4 linked regions of the Homo sapiens genome follow. The protein of the gene in region 3 interacts with the protein of the main gene of each other region in a pairwise test. Each region holds a gene or a part of one and is shown on either strand. Other genes may lie near its edges. The genes, in order: PTPN5, SLC16A7, VTI1B and CD46.

Region 1 (7,037 bases), on a different chromosome or scaffold from region 3:
CGGAGAGATACACAAGGGCAACAGGGTTGCTGCTACAGAGTGTTGGGTTCAAATCTCAGCTGCAAACTCTATAAGCTACTTCCGTTTCCTGAGTCTCAGTTTCTTCCTCTGGAAAACAGAAGTGCTACCCATCTGAAGGACTTTTATGGAGATTCGGTTAAATGGGCCCTTATGGGTACAGGAGTAGCCAACATCTGTCCTGGCAGGCTGGGAGGCAGCAGAGTGCTGTGTTTAAGGTCACGGGCACTGGAAGTGGAGAGGCCACCTCCAGGCATGCCTCTATCTGTGAAGCCCGGGGCAAATGACTTAACCTTACCGAGCCTCACATCTCCTCATCTTGGCAGCGGAGTGAACACCGCCGACCTCTTGAGATTGTCATAAAGATTAATTTGAGAACAAGATACTTAGTGTAGGGCGCAATGTAGCAGACACTTAGAATGGGGACGGGGGTCCCTACCTCGTTCATCTCCTCGATGTTGGTGATCATGACAATGATGGGCGTGTGCTCCTGCCACACCATGCGCCAGAAGTCGGCGACCGTGCTGACGATGGGTCCCTGAGTGGCGATGTACACCTTCTCCTCCCCACCATAGCCCTGCGGCCAGCCAAGTCCAGGCTGTCAGGGTCAGAGGCAGTGCTCCCAGGACCCCATCCCCACACTCAGGCTCTTCACAGGAGCTGGCAGGAGCCAGACTGGTGTAGGGACAAGGCTGGAGGATGGATCCCATCGACTCAGGCCTCCCCTTGAGCAAGAGGCCGTCAGGGTGGGAATACGTACCCGGATGTAGTTGGCATTGATGTAGGAACTCAGAGGGTCGTCAGGGTCTGGTGAGGTCAGACACACTCTGCTGTGAGGGTCTGGGGTGGTGGGAGACAAGTAAGGCTGGAAACTGGGCCCTCTGGTGCAGGACCCACTTGCTCTGGCCTATTCCAGCATACCCACACTTCTTCTGCGACATTAGCAGTTCTTCCTTCCCTTGCCCAGCAGCAAAACATTGACCCATTCATGGTTCATTTTGTAGGTGAGGACTCAGGATGAGGAGGAGGGTGGAGAGAGAGGGGGGTCCCCGGGTCTCTACCTCTGTCTCTATCCTTAGCCTGTGCCTCTTAAGTTGCCCTATACTCACTGCATCTTAGCTTCTGGAGAGGAGACAGCTAAGTCAACAATGGAATTACCTAGGGAAATTCCTGTACAGATCTTGTTCAGCAAGAGACAGCTAGCTTGAGTACACACTGTCATTGACTTGCTGTGTAGGCTTGTAAAACACATGGCCTTTCTAAGCCTTAGTTTTCCTATCTGTCAAATGGAGGCAAAGATGCCTACTTGCTTGGGCTGTTGGGAAGATGAATGAGAAAAGAGATGTGAAAGTTCTGTGTAAACTGTAAAGTGCTTTATAAATATAAAGGGCTGTTAAGATTCGGGAGTAGAAAGTTGACGGAGGCTATTAACATGAAAACGATAGTCTCCTCTATCTGGATTAAGACTGTGGGGTCTCAGCCTCATGTCCACATATGCAAAAAGGTTTTTTTTCCTTTCAATTTATTCACATGTCAAATCCCATAGTAAAAGGGTCTCTGTCACTCAGCTGGAGTGCAGTGGCACGATTATGGCTCGCTGCCGCCTCAAACTCCTGGGCCCAAGTGATCCTCCTGCTTCAACCCCCTGAGTAAGCAGGACTAAGCCATGAGCCACTGCACCTGGCTAAATTTATTTTTTTATTTTTATTTGTTTATTTTGGTAGAGATGAGGTCTTGCTATGTTGACTAGGCTGGTCTCCAATTCCTGGCTCAAGTGATCCTCCTACCTCGGCCTCTCAATGTGCTGGGGTTATAGGCATGAGCCACTGTGCCCAGCCCCCACTCTGCTCTTCTTCCTGGAGTAGATTTTGTTTTGTTCCAGCTACAGCCTCTCTGCATTGACTATTCTGTCAGCCTGCAGAGGCCAAGACTGAGGTTGTATGGGGTAAGGGGGAAGCTGGCTGGGGCCCCAGATTCCTGGGTTCTGGTTTAGTTTTGTCATCAGCTCACTTGTCCAGGCCTCAGTTTCTTTCCTATAATAGGGAGGACTGGACTAAAGGCACTTCCAGTGTGCACATTAGGAGGCTCTCACAGGCAGTATAGGGGAGTCATTAAGAGTCTACACCGCTGAGCCAGAGAGGCTAGGTTCAAATCCTGATTCTGACTTACTAGCAGTGTCAACATGGACAATTTACTTTATCTCCCTGTGCCTTATCTGTAATCTGGGGATGGTCATTCCACAATGACCTTGCTTATCTTGTAAAGGAGTTAACTTTAACAACTAGAGTCCTTATGCCAGTAACTAGGACCAACACGAAGTATCAGTTGCTGTTATTCCTGACATTATTACAAGTTCCACAAGTTAAAGGATAAAAAGAAGGATCCTAAACCCAGTAGGAGAAATTGGGGAGGTAAAGGGCACAAGCTTCGCCTCTTTAGCCCAACCCCAATGTCTAAGGTTTTGGCAGGTGATTTGGGGCAGTTCTTGTGAAGAGGGGGTGTAGAGGGTGGCAGGGATGGAGAGGAGACAGGGTAAACGGGAGGGGGGCTTTTGGGGGACCTGCAGCAGAGAGGGGCAGGAAGCTCTGTATGGGCCGTCTCCCTTCTCCTTGTCTGCAGGCAATGCTGTTCTGTCAGATTCACGTGCACAGTGCAGGGTAGGGAGTGGTGAGTGGTGAGGCTGGAGAGGAACCAGGCGACAAAGGGTCTTATAAACCAGGCTTAGAAAGCTGGATTTAGGCCGGGCGTGGTGGCTCAAGCCTGTAAGCCCAGCACTTTGGGAGGCTGAGGTGGGCGGATCACTTGAGGTCAGGAGTTGGAGAGCAGCCTGGCCAACACAGTCAAACCCTGTTCCTACTAAAAATACAAAAATTAGCCAGAAATTGCTTGAACCCAGGAGGCAGAGGTTGCAGTGAGCCGAGACTGTGCCACTGCACTCCAGCCTGGGCAGCAGAGTGAGACTCTGTCTCCCCCAAAAAAAAAAAAAAAGCTGGACTTAAACCTGAGGATTACGAGGGTGACAACAATGATGGCATTTAAGGAAGAGAATGACACAATTAGATTTGTTTTGCCTCATTTTGGTGACAATGGTAGAAGATGGAGAGGAGAGTGTGGAAGCCAGAAGACCAGTTAGAGGTTTACTGCAATGATCCAAGTAAGAAGTGTCAAGGATCACAGGGCTGTCCAGCCTGGCACGGCTCCAGGGGGCACTTATGTCAATGTAGTCTATGTAAATTGTGTCCCCTGGAATTGGACAACATGAAAGCCCTAACCTCAAAAACATCATTTGGCAGTGAGGCTGGAGAAGAGGATGTAGATTTGAGAGATATTATTCATTCATTCATTCAAATAGGTGCAGACCCCGGCATGGTGGCTCATGCCTATAATCCCAGCACTTTGGGAGGCCGAAGCAGGCGAGGACAGCTTGAGGCCAGAAGTTTGAGACCAGCCTGGTCAACAGAGCAAGACCTCCATCTCTACAAAAATTAAAACAGTCCAAATAGGTGCAGAATGTCTACCATGTGCCAGGCAGCACTGCTTTGATGCTTGGGACACGGCGGAGAAGGGGACAGAAATTGCTCCCAGCATCTTGTTCTCAATGCTGCCTGTGGGTTACTGTTCACTCTGACTGTAACTGTGCATGGACCTCTCTCCCCCGCTAGGCTGGAAGCTCCTTGTGCACAGAGTCTGTGTCCTATTTATGTCTAAATCCTCAGCCCCTGGGGCAGGAGCCGAGGAAATGTGTGCCCAGTGAATGAGAGAACAAACCTCAGCGCGTCCTGGATCTCAGAGGCAGCCTCTGCTCAGCCTCACCTGCCCTCTGCACCCCCCAACCCAGTCTCTGAGGGCACAGGCTCCATTCTTGCTGGACACAGACAAGATTCTTTATTGGGCTCGGGGGCCTGGAGGCTCAGGGCATGGTTGGAGGCAGCTCAAGCCTCTTGGAATGCAGCGGGGACTGCATCTGCACGGAATCCTAGTCTGCTCCCACCTTCCCCCAGTGGCCATTCTGAGCAGCCAGCAAAGTCCAAGGTTCTAGGATACTCGAGTCCCTCCCTCCAGGTAGGGCTGGGATCGGGGAGGGCAAGACGAGGGAAGAGGTGAGCATCCCTGAATAATGCATCCTGGCCTTAAATGGCTCTTTGTTTAACCGGAACTACCTAGAGACTGTGTAACCATAGCAACTACAAGTCGATATTTTAAAAGTTAAAAATAAGTCATGACATCTTACATGTTGTTGGAGATGCTGATGGCAAAACTGCTTTTTAAAAGCCTCGCTACTCCACAAACTGAATGGAGTAGGTTTATGGGGATTCACTTTCAACAAGTCAACGCCCAAGCTAGCCCTGGGGACTGGGGTCAGAACTTGGCGAGGGTGGCAGGCTCATCGAGGCTTGATAAAAGTTATCTGAAAATGATACCCCAGGGCTGAAAGAGGAGCATCAGGTCACCTGGTCTAACTGCCCCCAAAGGAGGAAAACCCCTTTCAGACCTTCTAGGGGACTGCTCGTGCCGCCTCACTTGAATATACTGAGTAATGGGGAGCTCACTCCCTGACAGAGACAACTCATTTGCCTGTGGGAGTGGATGTCCCTGTTAGAGGGCTTACAATTCGACCACACTCCACACAGTGTAGACAGAGAGCCTGACTCTGGGATCACAGAGGCCCAGGTCTGAAATTCAGCTCTGCACTTCCTAGCTGTGGGACTGCAGGTGAGCCACTTAACCTCTCTAAGCCTTAACTTCCTTTCCTTAAAATCTGCCCACTCTGAAAAGAGTTTCGGTTACCACAGTGTGGCTAGGAACTGCTGTCATTACCACCCTTTCTCTTTGGGTTTCTAGAGGGTCCAGCACAACATGTGGCCAGGCAGGGCAAAGGACCAGAGAGTGCTGTGCGAGGAAATGTACTCGCCTCTGGCCTCACCAGGGCAGCGCTTCCCTTCAGCCAGCAACCCCCAGCCCTCTGTCCCACCTCCTCCAGTCCTGTCACCCCTAGAGGCCCAGCTGAGGGTCCTCCTCAGGGTGAGGGGATCCCCAGGTGAAGCTGAGCCTGCCCCCATCCCTCTGGGACAGTGAGTACTCACTGGGAAGTATGGTTTTGTACCGGTTCTTCCGCACCAGCCCAGGGATGTCGTACTCTTTCGGATCCACAAAGTTCATGGGGATTTCCTGTGGAAGGAGGACACGGGGTGTGAGCAGCTATGGGCCCTCACAGATGTTTGAATCCAGGGGCTGCTGTGCCCCCAACTCCTAGCCCAGGGGCTGGCTTGAGTGCACGCATTCATTCAACAAACATTTACTATTAAGAGAGTTAGTGCTCACGACGCATTCAGAACAGTGCCTGGCACATGCTGAGTGTGTAATAAATATGATAATGACTATTGTTTATGGAGAGCCAGCCTGCCATATATAGACAGTCAATAAATAGCTGATGAATGAAGAAAAAGACAAAAAGTGACCTGGCCAATGGCTGCCTTCTTCCATGCTCCCTGGGCAGCATTCCTCCCTGGGCATCCCTATCTCGGGACCTAGGTTCGTGCTGCTTGCTCTGTGGTAACACACACCCCATCCTCATCTCATGTCCCGCCTCCTCTGAGAAGCCTTCCCTGATTCTCCAGAAGGAGAGAAGCCTCTTTCTGAGATCCCAGGAATATCTGCACCTCCCAACCACTGTCTGTGTCCAGAGCTCTGAGTCTGAACTTCTCTCCTGGCATGTGAGGGCTTCTTGAATCTGGCCTCTCTTTACTTCCAGTTAGGCCTGTTTCTCCCCTGTTGTTAATCTGCTGTTCTCAGTCCTGCCTCTGAGTCTGAGCTTGTGACGTTCTGCCTCCTGAGGGCGCTGGTCTCCCCTACCCCCATCTCTCCAAGTTGTTCCCACCCTTTAAAGTTCACCTCTGCCCGGGCGCGGTGGCTCACGCCTGTAATCTCAGCACTTTGGGAGGCCGAGGCAGGCGGATCACAAAGTCAGGAGTTTGAGACCACCCTGGCCAACATGTTGAAACCCCATCTCTAATAAGAATACAAAAATTAGCTGGACCTGGTGGCGGGCCCCTGTAATCCCAGCCACTAGGGAGGCTGAGGCAGGAGAATCGCTTGGAACTGGAAGGCGGAGGTTGCAGTGAGACAAGATCGCACCACTGCACTCCAGCCTGGGCAACAAGAGTGAAACCCTGTCTCAAAAAAAAAAAAAAAAAAAAAGTTCACCTATGAGTCTGTCTCCTCCTGACATCTTCCGGGATGACTCTCCATGCCTCTTGCCTCTGCATTTCCTTCCAGTCTGTCCACCAGCTTAGCCCCTGACTGCACCTAACTTCACACTGTTCATTGTTTTTGGACACACTAAGTATGGGCTTTGTAAAATGAGGATCATCACACTTTCCAGGATTGTGAAAATCAAAATAAAAATACAACACGTGCAAAACTGCCCCCAGAGTGGGTGCTCAGGCCACGCTCCTTCCTCAACAAAGACCCACCGGACAGGAAATGAGGTAGAGGATGTGATTCTTTCTCGAAGGGGAGATGATGGCAGTGGGAGCTCAGAGAAGGAGCTGAGGCTGGGGTGGTTAAAGAAGGCTTTCTAGAGGCATCTGGAGTGAGTGATGATGTGAGCAAAGGCACAGGAGGAGAAAGGCACGGACGAGACTGGCCCAGTTTGAAGTGGACAGTCCCTGCAGGGGTGGGGCATGGGGCATAAGGCTGGAAAAGGAGGCTGGGGCCACACGAGGTAAGGGGTGCTGATGGTGTATGCAGGTGGTACCAAGTTCTGGAGAACTTGGAGCAGCAGATCAGATGATGATGGAGGTCTTCTCACAGGGGAGAGCTACCCGGTCCAGACAGGCCCAGGGCGGAGGCCAAAGGAAGGGAGCTATGAGGGAGGAGGCACCTGCTTCTGTACCCCTGTGGCTTCTACCAGGAGGAACTCACCCCAGATACTCTTGGCCTCTTGCCTTTTCCTGCTCACAGAAGTGAGGAGTTACCTGTTTGGTGAATTTGGTTGAGGAATGGAGCTTTGGAGCCTC
Region 2 (7,037 bases), on a different chromosome or scaffold from region 3:
AAAAATAAAGGTAGAGATAAAAATGACATGATGATGATTATCATTTATTGACTACCTACATTATTTCTCCAACAACAACTCATAAAATAAATTTTATTATTTCCAAAATGAGAAAACTGGGGCTCTAAAAGTTACATACCTTGACTGTGGTCAAACAGCTTAGAAGTAGCTTAGTCGAAATTTCATTGGGCTATATCTATCTGTCTTCAAAGTCTCTGATCTGACATGTGACACAGATTGAGAAAAAAGGAAAAGAGAATAAAGAGATAACTACAGAATAAGACTGGCTACATAGAGAAGATGGCATGAGAGGTCTACAAAAAAAATTGGCTCAAGGACATAAATTGCTTAACCTTGCTTTGAGAATATATTTGATATCTGTGTAACTCAAGACTAAAAAGGACTTACCTGTTCTATTTACAGCCATCTCTCTAACATCCAAAACAGTGTCTGGAACACAGCAGGGGAATAAATAGTTGTTAAAGTACTGCATTCTATGCCTTAAAATATGTCAGAGGCTTTATTCAAAATCCCTCTTCACTGTAAATTTGATATATACCCATCTATGAGAATTCTCCAGACCCTACTCTGTTCATGCACTCACTGATACCCACAGCACAGGGCTTCCATGGGAGTCTTGCCACCTCCCACGTATTCTATCCCTACCACCTTGCAAACTGAGTTATAGGAATGACATCCTGGACTTACTGTTCCTTCGGTCCCTACTGGTTCTCCAGCCTCCTTGAATCCACAAGGGGTTGTTACTTTCTCTAAGCTTTCTAGCTTGGTTCCAGGTAACTCCTTCAAATAGTAAGGAAGCCTTATCATTCCTGTTGACTTTATGTTGTAACAGACCCAAACTCATTATACCTGACTACTAGTCTCTGTTTGAAAAAATATTTATCAGACTTTGCCTGTAATCCCAGCACTTTGGGAGGCTGAGGTGGGAGGATCAAAAGGTCAGGAGATCAATACCATCCTGGCTAACATGGTGAAACCCCATCTCTACTAAGAATACAAAAACAAAAATTAGCCGGGCGTGGTGGCGGGCGCCTGTAGTCCCAGCTACTTGGGAGGCTGAGGCGAGAGAATGGCATGAACCTAGGACGCAGAGCTGGCAGTGAGCCAAGATTGTGCCACTGCACTCCAGCCTGGGTGACAGAGTGAGACTCCGTCTCAAAAAAGAAAAAAAATAAAATTATCGGACTTTTCCCAAGAATGTCTTAAAATTTACTGCAGCATGAAATACTTGAAATTAATACTATTGAAAAGGTACATTTTGTTCAACAGATTAAAATCCAGACCCTTCCAATGACAAGATGTGTAACCTTGGGCAAAATACTTCACCTCTGTGCTCTACTCTGCCCATCTGTAAAATGAGGATAACAAAAATGCTTCCTCATAAGGTTTTGAGGATTAAATTAGTTAAAACATGTAAGGTATTAAATATAGAAGTGTTCAACAAATGTAAGCTATTCTTACTTAAAGCTTATCTTTATAACTTTACTTAATAGCCACTTATTTGGTCCAATGTCCTTAAATTCACTTATTATACACACACACACACAAGACATGTTTGTTGTTTTACTACTTAGGGCATTAATCTATAAAAGAGTATAATTTTACTGAGTGGCTAATTTCCAATTACAATCAAAAGTTAAAGTGAGCTTTCCTATCATCCTCCAGTGGTTTATTCATTTATTTATTTATTAAACTGTTGGCACAGAAAGGAAAGTTCAGCCCTGAGATAACTATGGGATTCTCCCAGAGGTAGATCGCTATATATACCTTGATTTCCCACCCTGACACCTGAAGAGATATTGACAAGTTACATCATGAAAAACAATTCCAATATTTACATTCAAAACCATTGTTATCCTTGAAGTATTCTATGCATTTGTGGACTTTCCTAAAGTTGAATTACTCCACAATACAGCAGCCTTAAATAAAGAATGTAACCAGGTCACATGCAAAAAACAGGAAGAAAAACTGAATATGTTAAATTGATAGAGAAAACAAAAGACATGTGAGCTGTCACCACATTGGTAGAGTATGTCATTCAAATGAGAAAGGGATTCATTTCATGTGGCCCCAGGAAGCTGAACAAAGACCCTAGGTAGAAACAAGAAAATTTGAGTCACAAGTAGAACTGCCTTTAAAAGAACAGTCTGCCTCAGTGTGTACACTTAAATAATAGATGGTGGTTTATTGAACATAATGAAAACAACACATAAAAGTGGAAACAGATGTCCTCCAAGTTTCTTGCAACTCTATAATCCACCAAAATGCTAAAGATGACATAAATATGAATACATTATTATTCCTGACATCTACAACTTTATAGTATATTAAGAAACTGAATAATTATATAAAATCAAATATAATAGAATGTCAAGACATTCTATTATACAATGTCAAATAAGACATTATAAACATAATGTTCCTGAAATTTTAGAAAAATTATTCTACCTATCCAGAGGTGTCAGAGGAAAATTTGTATGTGGTGTTTAAGCTCAACTTCTTAGAAGGTGAGGTTAGAGCTAGAAATCGTAGGACGTTAGATTCATTTCAAGATAAAAGAACAGCATGGCCAAAGATTTGGCGGTAGGAAGTAGAATGAGAATGAACGAGGCATGAGGACAGTTCCATTTGAGTTGAGTATGATGGTAGTGGGAGATGAACATGGAACAGCTGTTTGGACTTACATCATGCAGGGACTGAAATGTCAGTCCTTGGACCTAGGTGATGGGAGTGTTACTTAACAAAGGTGTGCTTCCATGAGAGTATCTGATACCATGTACAGAATTAACTGGTAGGGTGAGAGACCAGAGGTGGGAATACCCACTAAGAGACTATTACATGACTGTAGGTAGTATGTCAAAAGCACCTGAAACTTCTGGCAACAACAGAATAGAAATAAATAATTAAAAAATTATTTTGGATGTACACAAGTCCAGAGAAAGGGTGGTCTCAAAAGCTTCTAGGCTAGAATACTGCTGATATCAATATGAAGAATGGGGGTGACAGAAAGAAAGAAGACAAAAAGGAAGGAAGAGACCACAGGATACTGGAAGTATCAAAAGCACAGTAAAGAGAAGCTGTCCTGCAAACATCTAGAAATGTCTGGAAATGCCTAAAAGTTGAGGGAAGGTCAGGACTACAGCAAATGGCTTGGGAGTTATTCCTACTGAGGTGAAAGCGGAGGTCCAGAGCAGATGAGCTTTGTCAATCAACAGAATGCAGGCTAAAGAAAAGTCTGGCCAGGCTCAGTGGCTCATGTCTGTAATTCCAGCACTTTTGGGGGCCAAGGTGGGCAGATCACTTGAGGTCAGGAGTTCGAGACCAGCCTGGCCAATATGGTGAAACCCTATTTCTACTAAAAATACAAAAAATTAGCCAGACGTGATGGTGGGCGCCTATAGTCCCAGCTACTCAGGAGGCTGGGGCAGGAGAATCACTTGAACTCAGGAGGTGGTGGTTGCAGTGAGCCAAGTTCATGTCATTGCACCCAAGCCTGGGTGTTGCAGTGAAACCCTGTCTCAAAAAAAAAAAAAAAAAAAAAAGCCCAAAACACAAACTGGGGAAGACATACTTATATTGAATACGAGGTGAAAGGCGAGCTGGAGAAGAAGCAGTAAATGAGCGGTGAGAGAAGTAACAAAATAAAGAGCACATGAAAGCCAAAACAGGAGTTCAAGAAGCATTAGGGATGAATACTGCCAAAGGTTATTAACAGTCCAAAGCAAATAATTTGGAGGCTAGGAGGTCAATGATGCTCTGATTATTAAAGTTAACAGTTGTTATGCCTTACTAATAAAGAACTCATTGTTTCAAAACAAAATATTTTTATACAAGAGTATTATTTTCATCCTTTAATGAAAGGCAAAATAATTTTGAAAGTACTCTGAAAGTACTCTGATCCCAAATAAATTGTTTAAACAATCTCAATTTGATCTTATTGGCTGACAGTTTTCAACCATATGGATCACCATTCCACCACAGGTATATTAAAATGTAGAGAGGCATTTTTGATTGTTACAATGACTAAGGGAAAGCCACTGACTTATAGAAAACAGAGATAGATCATTGTTACGGACTTAATGTGTGCCTCCAAAATTCATGTTGAAGTCCTAATCCCCAAAGGAGTGGTATTAAGACATGGGGACTTTGGGAGTTAAGTAGGTCATAAGGAAGGAACTCTCATGAATGGGATTAGCACCCTTATAAAAGAGAGCTCTCACTCTCATCCCACCATGTGAAGATATAAGAAACCAGCAGTCTACAACCCAGAAGAGGCCTTCACCAACACCTGGACCATGCCAGCACCCTGATCTCAGATTTCCAGCCTCTAGAACTGTGAGAAATAAATTTCTGTTGTTCATAAGCTACCTAATCTGTCTATAGTTTGTTATCGCAGCCCAAATTTACTCAGAAAGGTCACAGACACCCAATGCTCTGCAATGAAAGAGACAGTCCTACACAATGAAAAAGTGTCCCACCCCAAATGCCAATAATCCCACCTGTTGAAAAATACTGTCACCGACTGCCATTTATCACTGAATTTGCCTTTCACATATTTGAGAAGAACTGATGGAACTTCAAATCCTAGAAATTTTGAAAATCATTTTTAAAATAAGATAAATGTTAATATCCCTTAGAAACTTATCAAATGCATGCTTTGTAGTTTTATTTTTTATTCTTATCTAATCTAGTTAAAAAAGATATAGATATTCAAGTTAATTACTTAGTAGGGCAGCTGCTTTGTAAAAAGTACCATTCTTTTACATATTAGCTTCAATAGAAATCTGATTAGAGGTATTGACTAATTAATAATGATACATATTGTATTATGAGGTGGAGAAACAGCAAATGCTTATAATAAAATGCTTTCTACAAAATACCAACACTGTATATGGATCTTTATTTATCTAAACAAATATTTCATTTGTGTTCACCACTTACACAAAATATTTTCTATTGAAAGTTGCTATTTTAATGCCAACTATTACATAAAACTAATCACCAGGCTCTATAATTGAACCATACAGACATTTTTGTGGAACTTAACGAAAGTACCTTTAGGCCAGTATCTTGTAGCTGTCGTTCAGTTGTCCCATAGGATTTTCATGAGGTCCTTTGAGACTTCAATGAGTATTAATGAAAACATTTGCGGGAGTTTTAGTATTAGGTCAGAAAAATTATTTCCAAAAATACTTGCTTCATTTATCAACACTGATATTTGTGAATATGTTGAAATTGTCTATGGTGCACCCAAGTCCCAGTTAGTCCAGCTCCAGCTGGACTAGTTTTATTATAGTCAGCTCCAATTTGTTTAATTTTCTCCCACATTTTTAATGATTACAGTTGATATATAAAGACCCTCCACTTATTTACTAATTACCAAATACGTGTGATAAGTGTTATTTATTCCTCTCGACAATGGTCCATTTTAGGCTAGTCTCTCATATTATGATTTTAAACAGCTGGATCTCTCACATAGGTAGACTCAGCCCCTGGATTCACCATTTATAGCAGCAACTGAGAAAATGAAGCTTTCTCACAAGTTAAAAAAAAAAAAAAGTTCCATTATTCACTGAGAGCTAGTGTGCAGATGTTTCCCAAGATATTTCTTAATCACTTTGATCCAAACAGTTTTGAGAAAGCCTGTGACAAACCAGGATGACTTCTCAAAGGGAGTCCACTTAATGGTTTATTATGCAATTCAACTTTGTTGTGCCATCTAATGGCAAGTTTGGCATTTCAGAGTTCCCAAAAATCTGTTAAAAATAAGCCAGTGATGCTTATGATAAACTAAAAAACATAAAGCCAAATATTTAATACCTAAAAGTAGTTATTGAGTTATTTCTATGTATGTGCTCAGCACAGTGCTATTTCACAGATATTATCTCATTTAATGTTTACAACCAATATACAAAATTGGTTACTATTCTATTTTTACACATGAAGAAACCGAGACTTAAAGAGGTCTAGCAACTTGTCTTTGTTGATAAGTGGCAAAGCTAAAATCAAAACCCAGACAGGCTGGACTTCAGAGCCCCTCGTCTGCCCTGTCCTGTCCCAAGCAGCAGCTCCACAGAGGTTCCAAGATGAATCAGATATACCATCTACTCTCAAAGACCATGTAGCCCAGGAAGAGAGATAGGATGCCTTCCCAAATAATTGTAATTCAAGGTAAAATATAAGAATCAGCCTAAGAGAAGCCCAGATCAAGTTACGAAGTAGTTCAGATGAACACAGATTACTTCAAGATGTGGAAAACAGGAGGGTACTTTTTATTTGGGATGAGTTGAAGGGAGGAGGGGAACAAAGGGCAATAACAGAATGTAATTATTCTTTGCCGCATGCCATTCTATTTATCAGGCACAGTATAAAACAGCTTATATTTGTTATCGTCTTTGGTGTTCAGAACAACAATACAAGTACTACCACAACATTGCATAAGACAAAGCCAGCCAGTGGCTTAACTAAAATTTAAATCCAGTGCCCCTGCATTATGGTCTGCCCTTTTAATTTCTTCCTTCTTTTTTTTTCCTGGTCCACCTTGAGTAGGTCACTCTTTGATGTTTGCACTTCATGGGCACCTTTTGCTAATTTGTCAAACCAAAGAGAATATTTTCCTATTCTGCATAAATGAGCATCATAAACTAGATGATTAGATGCAAGACAAGGAAAAGGAATCCTCAAAAGAGCCTCAACTATTGTGTTCTCAGGGCAGAGTTCATGCTGGATTTCCTGCCAGATTCAGTGTTGAAGGCGGGAGACACTTGGACTTGCTAATTTTTATTTCCTCCTCTTCCTCCTTCCCTCTAGTTCTGCTTCCCTCCCTCTTTCCTTCTTTCTATAATCAGTTGTTCTGAACCATGACATGCCAGACACTGTACTGGGCTATGGAGAAAACAACAGGTAAGGTCTTTGCTCTTATTTAGCTTCATGCAAGGCAGAAGCTATATGACACAGTGGTTAAAGCCAAACAGATCGCATCGGTGCTTGCCCCAGCTCAACCACTTACTAACTGT
Region 3 (4,085 bases):
AAGCCAAAGTAAAAACAAGAGTCCATTTTATAGTAGAAAATACCTATTTTTAGGAAGCCCCTTGCACCTCATCCTCTTGGCCATGAATTTAAGTTAAAACACTGTTGTGCTATAGTAGATTAAAAGAAACCTTTTAAGATAATGAAATAAACCATCCCTGTTCAACTAACATAACAGGCATAATTGTCAGGCGTTCTGGAAAAGGAAAAGGCTTGGTGTTGGGTGGGGGAGGTTTTCATCCTGCTTGTTGGCAAAATGTATGCCACCTCCAGTATGACTAGGAACCTTCCAGATGCCTGCCTGGAAATGAATCAAGTATGAAGGCAGAGGAAATCTGCCACTTGCACTAGCCAAACTGCATTCCCACTTTTGAACTCTAATGTGTTATCTGTATCTGTTAGAGCACCACACCATATGCCCTGAAATGTAGTTATTACTGCAAACTTCATTCTCACCCCTGCAGGCCTGAGCTCTGGAGGCAGGTTCCACATCTAACAACATCTTTTTGTCTCCCAGCAGACTGACCCAGTGTCTTGTACTTGATCAAGAGAAAATTCAGCCATATGTTAATTATTTTATCTGGACTTCAGTTACCTTCTGTTAAGGTTTGAGAACTTGTGTCAAAGTTCTCGGTAGTGTTCCTTTGGCCTGGAGCAAGTGGAAGGGAAGCTTAAACCAGAAGAACCTATCCAGACCTGCTACTATGCTCACCCCTCTAAATGCCTCACTTCTCTATAGAATTTAACTTTTTAGTTGGTTATTCTGGATGAAGGGTGATCTGAACAAGCTAGTATTCAGGAATACAAGTATCTAAGAATATTTAGGGTGGCCATAAAGTCTGGAAACACAGGCAAATGTACCTAATGGTTTATTGATATTACACTATAGTACATGATGTGCTGAATGCCATCATGTCCGTTCAGCATCTTCCCTTATTAGCAATGCATAGTTGAGTGTACAGTGCCAAACTGCAACCAACAGGTGTATTACTGTAGCATTTCCATCATTTCCTGCACATGGACCTGTGTTCCTGATTTGTCTCTGATTTCCACTGACTAAACCTGCACCTTTAGCATATCCCAGAAGTGGTCATCAAAGTTTGCACTATTAGAAATATATACATGACTTATGTTTCCAGACTATTGCCACCCTATAAATTAAGCAAACTGCTTTATGTATCTAGTTGACAGCATTATAACAGTGCAGTGGCACAATCATGGCTCACTGCAGCCTCAACCTCCCAAGTAGTTGGGACACCTGGCTAATTATTTTTTGTAGAAACGGGGTCACACTATGTTGCCCACGCTGGTCTTGAACCCCTGGGGTCAAGTAATCCTCTTGCCTTGGCCTCCCAGAGTACTGGGATTATAGGTATGAACCACTGTGCCTAGCCCCATGAGTGTCTTTTGGAGTAAAATATTGTAGCATAGGAACAAAGAGACAAGCCATGCCATATATAAGTGCTAGAGGTTATTAACCCCTGCTCTAAGTGGTGTTTTTAGGAAGCAAAGCAGAGAATTGAACCCCCAAGTTCTCTGGCCAATAACCTAAGGACCACTGGCAACATCTAAGATTGCAGATCTGAGAATTAGACCAGTACTGCCTGCCTTTTTGTACTGCCTAAGGTTCTGGCAGGCTGTGGCGCTAAGGAGACCATTTCTCAATGTGAGTTTCTATCCCAGCTAGTCAAGGGTTCTCTATAGCCCTGAACCTTTCAATCTGGGGTCTCTATCTATACCCTAGTTCCATCAGATGGTTACTGAAGCAGTATGATTTGGTAGTTCTTTAAATTTTGGAATGAAAGGTCATTTGAAGTAGCTTTAAAACCAGAAGCTTTCTGACAGAAATGGAAACTGTTTGCAAACAAGTATGAGTTTTGGAAAAGTAGCCAGTCTTGATAACGTAGAATTCATCTTAGTACTCTTTCCATCAGCCATTCTCATCTAACTGTATCCCCCTTATTAGAAATCCTTTCAGGCTCTAGTACAAGACCTACCCTACATAAAGGACCCAAGATATTGTCCAGTTTGCAGATTTCTTCAAGAGATCAGCTTTAGCTCCAAATTCACAACTCCCAATGAACCAATCTCTTAGAGTGCAAATTACAGCCTTGCACTCTTATCTTATCTTGCCTTCTTATCTTAATCTGCCTTTAGATAACTCAAAGAACTGCATCAGTTTGACAATTTATTCTTGTATTTAATTGTTTAAATATACAATTTTTTACTCATTATTACCTTAGTGTAATTTGGTAAGAGCCATGTCCAAGCATGACTCTAAAGGACTATATCCTTTTTATTAGCATGGCCATATAATTTTTAGCTACAAAAGTTTAAGCAAAAACAAACTCTGCAATGATGTGGAATAGCAGAAAAGATCCTTTGCAGGCAAGAGACTCTAGCATATTTACCTATGTAGTTAACAGGCTGCAGACCTGGTTGCTACATACCTGTATTGTGTATTTCCTCAGCAATATACATGCCTTCTCGATAGGTTAGTCCCCCGACAACAGGAGTTCCTGTGGCTGGAGCCAGTGTAGGGTCAAATGCATCAATATCAAAACTCAAATGGATTGGTCTTTGTCTCCTAAAAAGGAAGAGGATAAAATAATACTTAAAATAATACTTAACTGGTTGTCCTTGGACACTCATCCTTCTTATGGTTGCAACTCCTTGATTTTGTTGCTATTAGTCCTAGTACTTTGTTAATAAAGCTGTTAATACATTTCCAGGCTTCCTATTCTTGGAAGTTACTGAGATTGGCAATATTAACTTCCTACATACCACTTCATGATACTGCCATTTGTTCTGCATACCTCAGACAGACTAACTCCAATGTATATTTCTGCCTTACACTGGGTATTAGAACCTCTTATACTAATAACTGTCAATAGAGAGATTTCTTCACTTCTAGATGAGATTGGGCTCTCATCTAGAGACAATTTAATTAGACAATTTAAATTAGTCTAATTTAAATTGGCTTGATGTAAGTTATGGTTGCTCTTATTCTCTGAACGTAACAGCAGCTGAAGTGAACTCTAATTTTAGGTCTGCAGTTTTAACATCTTCCATTTCTAACTTCATTATAGCCCCAGTGTCCAAAGGCTGAAGCTAACAACTAAGTTTCTTAACAGCTTATGAAATGACATACTACCAGATAACAATTCTGACATTAATCACCCAGAAGTAAAGACTTGGTATTGGGAAAATGCTCTTAAAATTACCATTTGATTAGTATTCATCTGCCATCTTTCTACACTGCCAAGATTTGCTTAATATAAAACTCAGATGAAACAATCGTGAGGCTGGGAAGAATGGGACAGTTGAAACAATAAATGCTTGTCATCTCAGAAGATAAGCATTAAAGATGGAGATAAAGAAAAATTCATGAGACAGAAGATCTAGGCAATGATTTAGAGGAAACCTCCTCCCAAAAACCCCAGAGGAAGAATATGACCTGTGTTTCAAATTTTGCCTTTCTGAACTATTTAAAATTATGTGTATGTTTTTGCTTTGTATTTTAAAAGTAAAGCTGCTGTCCTCAAGAAACAGGCTAAAAGTGTGTTGCCCATTGGGGGTTTGCCCTGACATCAGTTATAGTTACTTACTTGCCAATCAGCAGATCAAATGTTCGTTCCATGACCTTCTGGATACCAAGTCGATCAATATCTCTCATGGAAAAATACTGGATATCATAGTTCTTTAAAATAAAACTGTGATGAGATATAAAGGGAGGAGTCCTTAGTTTAAAGAGCATTTTTAACAAATATGTATTTGGGGGAGAGGGTGGGTTTGTTGTAGTGACCTGCAATAGACCAAGTTAAGCATCAGCCTTTCAAATAGAACATAATTGGCTAGGACAGGCCCTAAACTTCAGCCAAATGCATCAACTTACTGTTCAGGAGGGTCCACGTCTCTCAGACCAATATACACAATACTTGCAGAAGAGATACAAGGTTTGATCCAGGAAAATCCTGGGAGTTGTGGTACCTATGAAAGGGAGAAATGGACAGGATTAATCAAGAATTCTTGTTCTCACCAAGATCATTATCATGTGCGTCCGTGGGTATGCAATCTGCTTTCTTC
Region 4 (7,037 bases), on a different chromosome or scaffold from region 3:
CCAACTTAGCCAGGCTGGTCTTGAACTTCTGACCTCGTGATCCACCCACCTCGGCCTCCCAAAGTTCTGGTATTACAGGTGTGAGCTACCCCACCCAGCCTATAAGAAGGTATCTTAATTACTATGTTAACATGCATAATTCTCTTCGATCCTTTAAAATATTAGGGAGATAGGAAATATATAACCAAATTAGAAGCCAGTGATTGAGATTTCAGTTCAACACTCACATTATACTAAAGGGAAACTGAAGACCACAGAAATGATGTTAACTAAGCACAGTCTGCCCAGACTGAAGTGCTACCCACAATTACTATTGTCTCTTGCTTCTGCTGGAAGCAAAGTGAAACCAGAGATGGTAGTGCTGAAATCAGGATAATTCCTTCCATCATATCAAAATAATCTCTCCAGTCATAAGCACAGTGGTTGACCAGGAGTCCCTGCAAAAGTCTTCTATTTTATTTCAGTAAATAAGGACTTTTCCTGCCTTTCAGTTGCTATAAAATTGAGTTGCTATTGCCAGATAAAACTGCCCACTAAAGAGAAAAAAAATAAATAACATTATGAGGTGTGGAAGAGGGGTGGGTAGGGAAGAGGCAGAAATACAGATCTTGTTCTGAGGACAGCAGAAATTTCCCTGTTTAAATGTTTTACATCAGAAGACTCAAACTAGTTGCATTCCAGGAAATGAAAGAGTCCTGCAATAGGAACAAACTCAGTAAAGGTGTCAACAGATCACTTCTGAAAAGAATAAAATAGCAAAGTTGATGACACAAAACATACATATTAACAAACAAACATATTAACATATTAACACACACACATACTAACAAACATACATGAACCTTCCCCTTCCCTAACATTAATTTAAGTGTAGGATAAGTCATATTGGCTAGCTCTAAGAGCTTTCTCTACACCAGGCACTGTGCTAAGTGCTTTAAATGCATCCCACTTATACCTTACTAATACCCAATAAGGAAGGTACTAAATCAATTTCTCTATATATAATGTAAACATATATATATAAACACATTCAAAATTTATACAACTTTCCCAAGGTCATATTCCTGTTTATATCAGATTATGGCAAATAATTTTAGAATCACTATGTATAACAACTAAAATGGCTATACAAATGTCCTCCCTCCTTTCATTACTAAAAATAAGTGAACATCACCAGAAATTTGAAGGATTTTATAAAAAATCACCAGGAATTTAAAGGATTTTTGAAAAACTATAAGCAGGAAATTACTAAACCTGAGGCACTGGACGCTGGAGATTTTGTAGTGGAAGAAGTCGACACTGGAAAACAAAATAATAATGTAGATTGGACCAAACACTTGGGAGTTATTGCTGGCAATTTCTCCAGGAATTCCTTATATCTTGTAACATATAAGGAAGAAGACATATAAGGAAGAAGCTACTAAACCTGAATGACTCAAAGCTGGAGGTTTTGTACTAGATGGAGGCAGCACTAGGAAACAAAATAATGTTAGAAGATCAACCACTTGGGAGTTATTGCTCTCATTTCATTTATATGAATTATGCCATTGTTGACTTACTTAGATAAAAATGCCCATGTTTCAATTCCAAAAAGTTGTTGTAATTCACTTTTTATACATAAAAATATTAAAAGCATATACCCATGCAATGTACATAACGTGCTAAGAACCCTGGAAAAGCACAAAAAATCACAACAGCAGAATTTTATGTGAATTTCGTGTCATTCATCTGGCATAGAAATGAATACAAGACAGAGTTAAATACTAAAATTGTTTCTTTTCAGTTATTTTGTATGACTGATAGTTAATATCAAAGAAATAAAGTCTAAAATGAACAGCAACAACAATAACAAACCAAGACAGAAAAAAGATAACCTTTGTACCTTTAAGACACTTTGGAACTGGGGGATCCCAAGTACTGTTACTGTCACAGACAATTGTGTCGCTGCCATCGAGGTAAAAACCCTTATCGCATTCAAACATAACTGTTGCTTTGTAGTAAAATTTTTTTCCAAATCCTGATATCTGTTTTCCATTTTCGACTACTGGAAATCGACATTTGACCACTGGAAAATTAGAGAAACCTCAGAATTAATGGATATCTGCTTTAGCAGAAAAAGTAGTACAAAGTAGTAATTTCCAGTGTGAACAGAGACAAGGAATGGAATGCAAGATGTTAAAAACATTTTTTAAAAGACTTTAAATGTTAACTAATATATTCTCCTTCATACAGAATTCTAGGGTGTTTTATTTTTCTTTCAGCACTAACAGAGATAACCATATTGTAACCACATTTTCTTAAGAAAACTTGGCTGGCTGTCATTCTTACTTGTCCCTGCCCTCCTAAATGTAATACGGGTTTTTGTTGTTTTCCCCACTCACTGGCTGCTTTTTAAAATTTTGTTTGGTAGTTTTTACCAAACTACTGCAGGGGGGTGGTGGTGGTGGTAAATTTTAATAATTTATTCATCCTGCTGAAGGTTCACTGAATCTCCTGGATCTGAGGTTGTTTTGGATCTAATTTGGATAATTTTTGGCCAATATTTTTTCAAATAATATTTTACACCATTCTCTCTCCTGTCTTTCTGAAACTCCAATTACATGTATGTTTCACTGCTTGATACTCTCCCACAGGTCTGTAAGCCTCTCTCTTTCTTTAGTCAACATTTCTTCTTAAATAAGGTTCAATTTCTATTCACCTGTCTTCAGGTTCACTGACCTTTTGTTGTGTCTAATTGTACCTAATGTTATTTGTAAAGGTTGGTTTATTGGATATAATTTACATACAGTAAAATTCACCATTTCAAGTGTACAGCTGTATCAGTTTTGACAAATGCAAATAATCATGTAACTACCACCATAGTAAAGATACAGAAAAGTTCCATTACTCTCCAGAATTTCCTCATGCTCTTTTGTGAGTTACCCCTCTTCCCCCTCATCCCCACTTCCACAACCAGCTAACCATTGATCTGCTTTTATCCCTATAGTGGGACTTTTTCAGAATGTCACATAAATGAAATTACAGTCTTCTTAGTATGGCTTATTTCACTAAGCATGATGCTTTCAAAATTCATTTGTGTTGCTGCATGAATCAGTTCATTCCTTTTTATTGCTGAGTACGAGTCCATCTTTTAGAGGTAGCACAGGTGGTTCATTCATTCACCAACTCAAGAACATGTGGCGATTTGCAGTTTGGGGTGATTATGAATAAGGCTGCTGTGAACATCCTCATATAAGTTTCTGTGTGAAAATGTTTTCAGTTTATTTGGGTTGCCGAGTTGTATGATAAGAGTATGTTTAACTTTATAAGAAATGCCAAAAATGTCCCAAAGTGGTCATTGCACTTTGATTCTCACCATCAGTATATGAGAGTTTCATCTGCTCCATATCCTTGTCAATACCTGGTATTGTCAGTTTGGGGTGTGTGTGTTTACATTTCGGCCTTTCCAATAGGTATTTAGTGGCATCTCATTGTGAGTAGAGACAGTTTTTATTTCTTCTTTTCCAACATGTGTGCCTAATAGCTTTCTCTTGCCTTACTGTACTGGGTGGGATCTCCAATATAATGCTGAATGGAGTGGTAAGAGTGGACATCCTCACTGTTTTCCTTCCAGAATTAGGTCTTTATTAATTAGACAGAAATGTAAGTAAGGTTTTTTTAACCACTAAGTACAATGTTACTTTTTACCACTAAGTATAATTTTTTTGAACCATGAAGTGTAATGTTAGCTGTGAGATTTTTGTAGATGTCTGTTATCAGGGTAAGATAGATAGTACCCTTCTGTTCCTAGTTTGCTGAGAAGTTTTATCATGAAAAAATAAGATGATGAATTCTGTCAAACATTTTCTTTGTTTTTTGCATCTAATAAGATAACCACATGATTTTTTTTCTCCTTAATAGTCTACTGATGTGGCAAATTACACTGATTAATTTTTGCATTTGAACTAATCTTGCATTCATAGGGTAAATCCTACTTGGTCATGATTTACTTTTCTTTTTATGTATCACAGGATTTGGTTTGCTAATATTTTGTTGAAGATTTTTGGTCCTGTGTTCATCAAGGATATTATTTGTAATTTTCTTATAATGTTTTTGTTTTCTGGTTTTCGTATAAGGACAATGCTATCATCATAAAATGGGATGAGAAGTGTTCCCTCCTCTTGCACTTTCTTGAAACGCTTGTGTAGAATTGCTGTGATTTATTCCTTAGATGGTTGGTAGAACTCCCCAGTGAAGCCATCTGGACCTTCAGTAGGTTATTAACTACAAATTTTATTTCTTTGGTAGATATAGGAGTATTCAGGTTATCCATATCTTCAAGTGAGTTTTGACATTTTGTATCTTTCAAGGAATCTGTCCATTTCAGTTGTCAAATTTGTAGGCATAAAGTTGTTTATAATATTCCCTTGTCATCCTTTAAATGTCTGTAGGATATTTAGTGATATTCTCTTTTTCATTCTTTTGTTTGTCTGTTGAATAATTTTGTAAAGTAATCAAGTAAAGTTTACATCACTGATATTAAAGAATGACCATATGCACAAAAGAATATAAAGCTTTTTGGCTAAGGGATGGGGGGAAGTCAGAAAAAGGATGAGAAACACATACGGGGTGGACGTGAGGAAGGAAAGTGAAAGGTGTAGGCACCCCCACCTCACTTCCTGAGGCAGGGCCGTCAAGGACTCTCAAGATCGAGCGGCCATTAATTACATGGATTCAGATTTCTTTCATTCTAGACTTAAATTTAACCTTAGGTTTTGGCTCCAGCACCAATTTAACAGAGCAACGTAGGCATTTCCAATCCAGCAGCACACGCTGTTTCCAAGCGCATGTGACTGGCGCACCGCAGCTCCGTGCACACCCCAGGAGCTCAGTCCGTGCCCAGAGCAGGTGCCTGTGCTGTGGAACCTGACAGGAAGCCTCCCAGAACACCGCCTATCACAAGGCGCCACCTGAGGGGATCTGAGGTCTCTAAAGATCAACTGGTGCCTGTGATTTCCAAAGATTTAACCTTAGCCTTCAATGACATTTACATATAAATTGTCAAATAAAACCCTCCATAATTTACACTTAAGTCTAGGAAGACATGGCACAAATGTTCCAATGACAAAAAAAAAAAAAAAAAGTGTAGCAGCTGTGTGTGTTTTCCCCACTTTGACCAAGCTCTCACTGTAACACAGGGCATAAATGAGAAGGGTTGCACACAAATTTAAAGTATACAAAAAAAAAAAACCAAAAAATCATACGTTAACGCTGTTGACTTGTTAACAATGCAAGGAAACTCACTGGAAAATAAAATCCCTTATTTGAACCTTAAAAGAATGAAATGTACCAACTAAACTGTGTAGGCTCTAATGTAGCAGCACAGAATGTTTCCAGAAAAAAAATACATTGAAAAAAAATAAAAAATATTCAGAGATAAAACTAAAAAGATTAAAATATATATATCTTAAGAAAACTTATTGCTCAAAACATATGAAACTTAATTCTAAGAAATTCACCTACCTAAATTTAAACAAGATTGCTGCAGTTGCAGCTCGCCGTCTCCGAGAGACACGAAAAGTGATGAGGGGCGCAGGGCTGTGGGGATGTCAAGACTGGCCCAAGGTCAAAAAGCCCTTGAGGAGAGCCCTAGCTCCCACTGAGACCAGCCTCTGGCCTGCCCTCTGCAGACGGGAAGGAAGGGGATGGGTCTGGGGCTGCAGACCCTGCTGGAATTAGCAGAGGAGCCAGCAAGGCTGGGGGGCTATAGGCTGGCCAGTCTCCCTTAGCTGGATCCCGTACTCCACGCCTGGCCAGCACTCCGGGACGCCTGGCTCAGGTCTCCATCAGGATCTCCACTACGTGTTCCTACTTGCCCAGGTCAGAATGCAATTGCAGCTGGAGGTGGGAGGCCGGACGGCAGCAGGCCCAAGCCTCTGAATGCTTTGCAGGGCCACCTCCCATCGTGTGGGTCAGCACCGTGTGTCCAGGTCATCATAGGAACTGACCACATCTGAGGCCAGTTCTTCCATGCAAACTGGGGTTTTTGGTCTTCAGTATTTCAAATATCTCATCTAGCTACTTCTGAACGCCTCCTCTATTTTCCCCAGGGCTGTCCGTCTCCCAGATGCTGCTCTTCAGGGCTCCTGGCGCCAGTGCTGAGGTGACAGAGCAAAGGTCTGAAAACTGGCCCCTTCACGCAGCAGTGTCCAAAGCGGGGGGCATGGCACACCCCCTCTGGCTTCCACATGGCGGGCACAGGCCACAGGCACAGGATCTCTGCAGAAACCAGGCAGTGGAACAACGCCAACCCCACACTCTCGGGTGCCTGTGTGTGCCACGTCTCATCCTGGGCCATCTCCTCTTGGATCTGCCAGGCGTGTTGGCGATGAGGACCCTGCGGCAGTGGTTGGGCTCCACCAGCAAGTGGTAAAGCTGGAACTTCTAAAAGGACAAGTCCGGGAGTGACTGCCCCTGCCGGCTGCAGGAGGGCAGGGTCTTCAAGCTGGCTGGGGTGCCGCGCCTGGCCACCACTTCTTTCATTCTCAGTATTGGTTAATTTGCGTCTTTTTTTGTCAGTCTGGCTACAGGTTTACACACTTTATTGATCTCCAAGTAGCAACTGTTGGTTTCACTGATTTCCTCTATTTTTTTTTCTTTTCTCAATTTCATTGATTTTGGCTCTATTTTTATCATTTCCTTACATCTGCTAGTTTGGGATTTAACTTGCTCTTTTTTAGTTTCTTAAGGTGGAAAATTAGATCATTGATTTGAGACTTTTCTTTTTTTCTAACACAAGTATATTATGCTATACATTCCCCTGTAAGCAATGCTTTAGCTGCATCCTACATATTTGGATATTTTGAGATGTTGTGTTTTTATTCAATTCAAAACACTTTCTAATCTCCCTGCTGACTACTTCTTTTATGCATGGGTTATTTAGAAGTGTCCTGTACACTTTCCAATTCTTTGGGGATTGGCTTTGTTATTGATTTCTGCTTTCATTCTATTGTGATAATGCATGTTGAATGATTTCAATTTTCTGAAGTTTGTTAAAA

The links.
Region 1: the proteins of VTI1B (region 3) and PTPN5 interact in binary tests that used the Homo sapiens proteins (3 or more experiments, as listed by UniProt).
Region 2: the proteins of VTI1B (region 3) and SLC16A7 interact in binary tests that used the Homo sapiens proteins (3 or more experiments, as listed by UniProt).
Region 4: the proteins of VTI1B (region 3) and CD46 interact in binary tests that used the Homo sapiens proteins (3 or more experiments, as listed by UniProt).

The regions. Positions count from the first base shown.
Region 1 is NC_000011.10:18,732,778-18,739,814, forward strand, and holds part of PTPN5 (tyrosine-protein phosphatase non-receptor type 5), read right to left. Parts: intron 5,188-7,037; coding exon 5,103-5,187; intron 859-5,102; coding exon 779-858; intron 596-778; coding exon 458-595; intron 1-457. UniProt on the Homo sapiens protein: May regulate the activity of several effector molecules involved in synaptic plasticity and neuronal cell survival, including MAPKs, Src family kinases and NMDA receptors.
Region 2 is NC_000012.12:59,599,006-59,606,042, reverse strand, and holds part of SLC16A7 (monocarboxylate transporter 2), read right to left. Parts: intron 1-7,037. UniProt on the Homo sapiens protein: Proton-coupled monocarboxylate symporter. Catalyzes the rapid transport across the plasma membrane of monocarboxylates such as L-lactate, pyruvate and ketone bodies, acetoacetate, beta-hydroxybutyrate and acetate.
Region 3 is NC_000014.9:67,646,548-67,650,632, reverse strand, and holds the end of VTI1B (vesicle transport through interaction with t-SNAREs homolog 1B), read left to right. Parts: 3' UTR 1-2,449; coding exon of another isoform or gene 2,450-2,586; 3' UTR 2,587-3,548; downstream 3,549-4,085. Other genes in the region: ARG2 (arginase-2, mitochondrial precursor), read right to left, coding at 2,450-2,586, 3,608-3,712, 3,895-3,989. UniProt on the Homo sapiens protein: V-SNARE that mediates vesicle transport pathways through interactions with t-SNAREs on the target membrane. These interactions are proposed to mediate aspects of the specificity of vesicle trafficking and to promote fusion of the lipid bilayers.
Region 4 is NC_000001.11:207,762,041-207,769,077, reverse strand, and holds part of CD46 (membrane cofactor protein isoform 3 precursor), read right to left. Parts: intron 2,066-7,037; coding exon 1,883-2,065; intron 1,472-1,882; coding exon of another isoform or gene 1,427-1,471; intron 1,300-1,426; coding exon 1,255-1,299; intron 1-1,254. UniProt on the Homo sapiens protein: Acts as a cofactor for complement factor I, a serine protease which protects autologous cells against complement-mediated injury by cleaving C3b and C4b deposited on host tissue.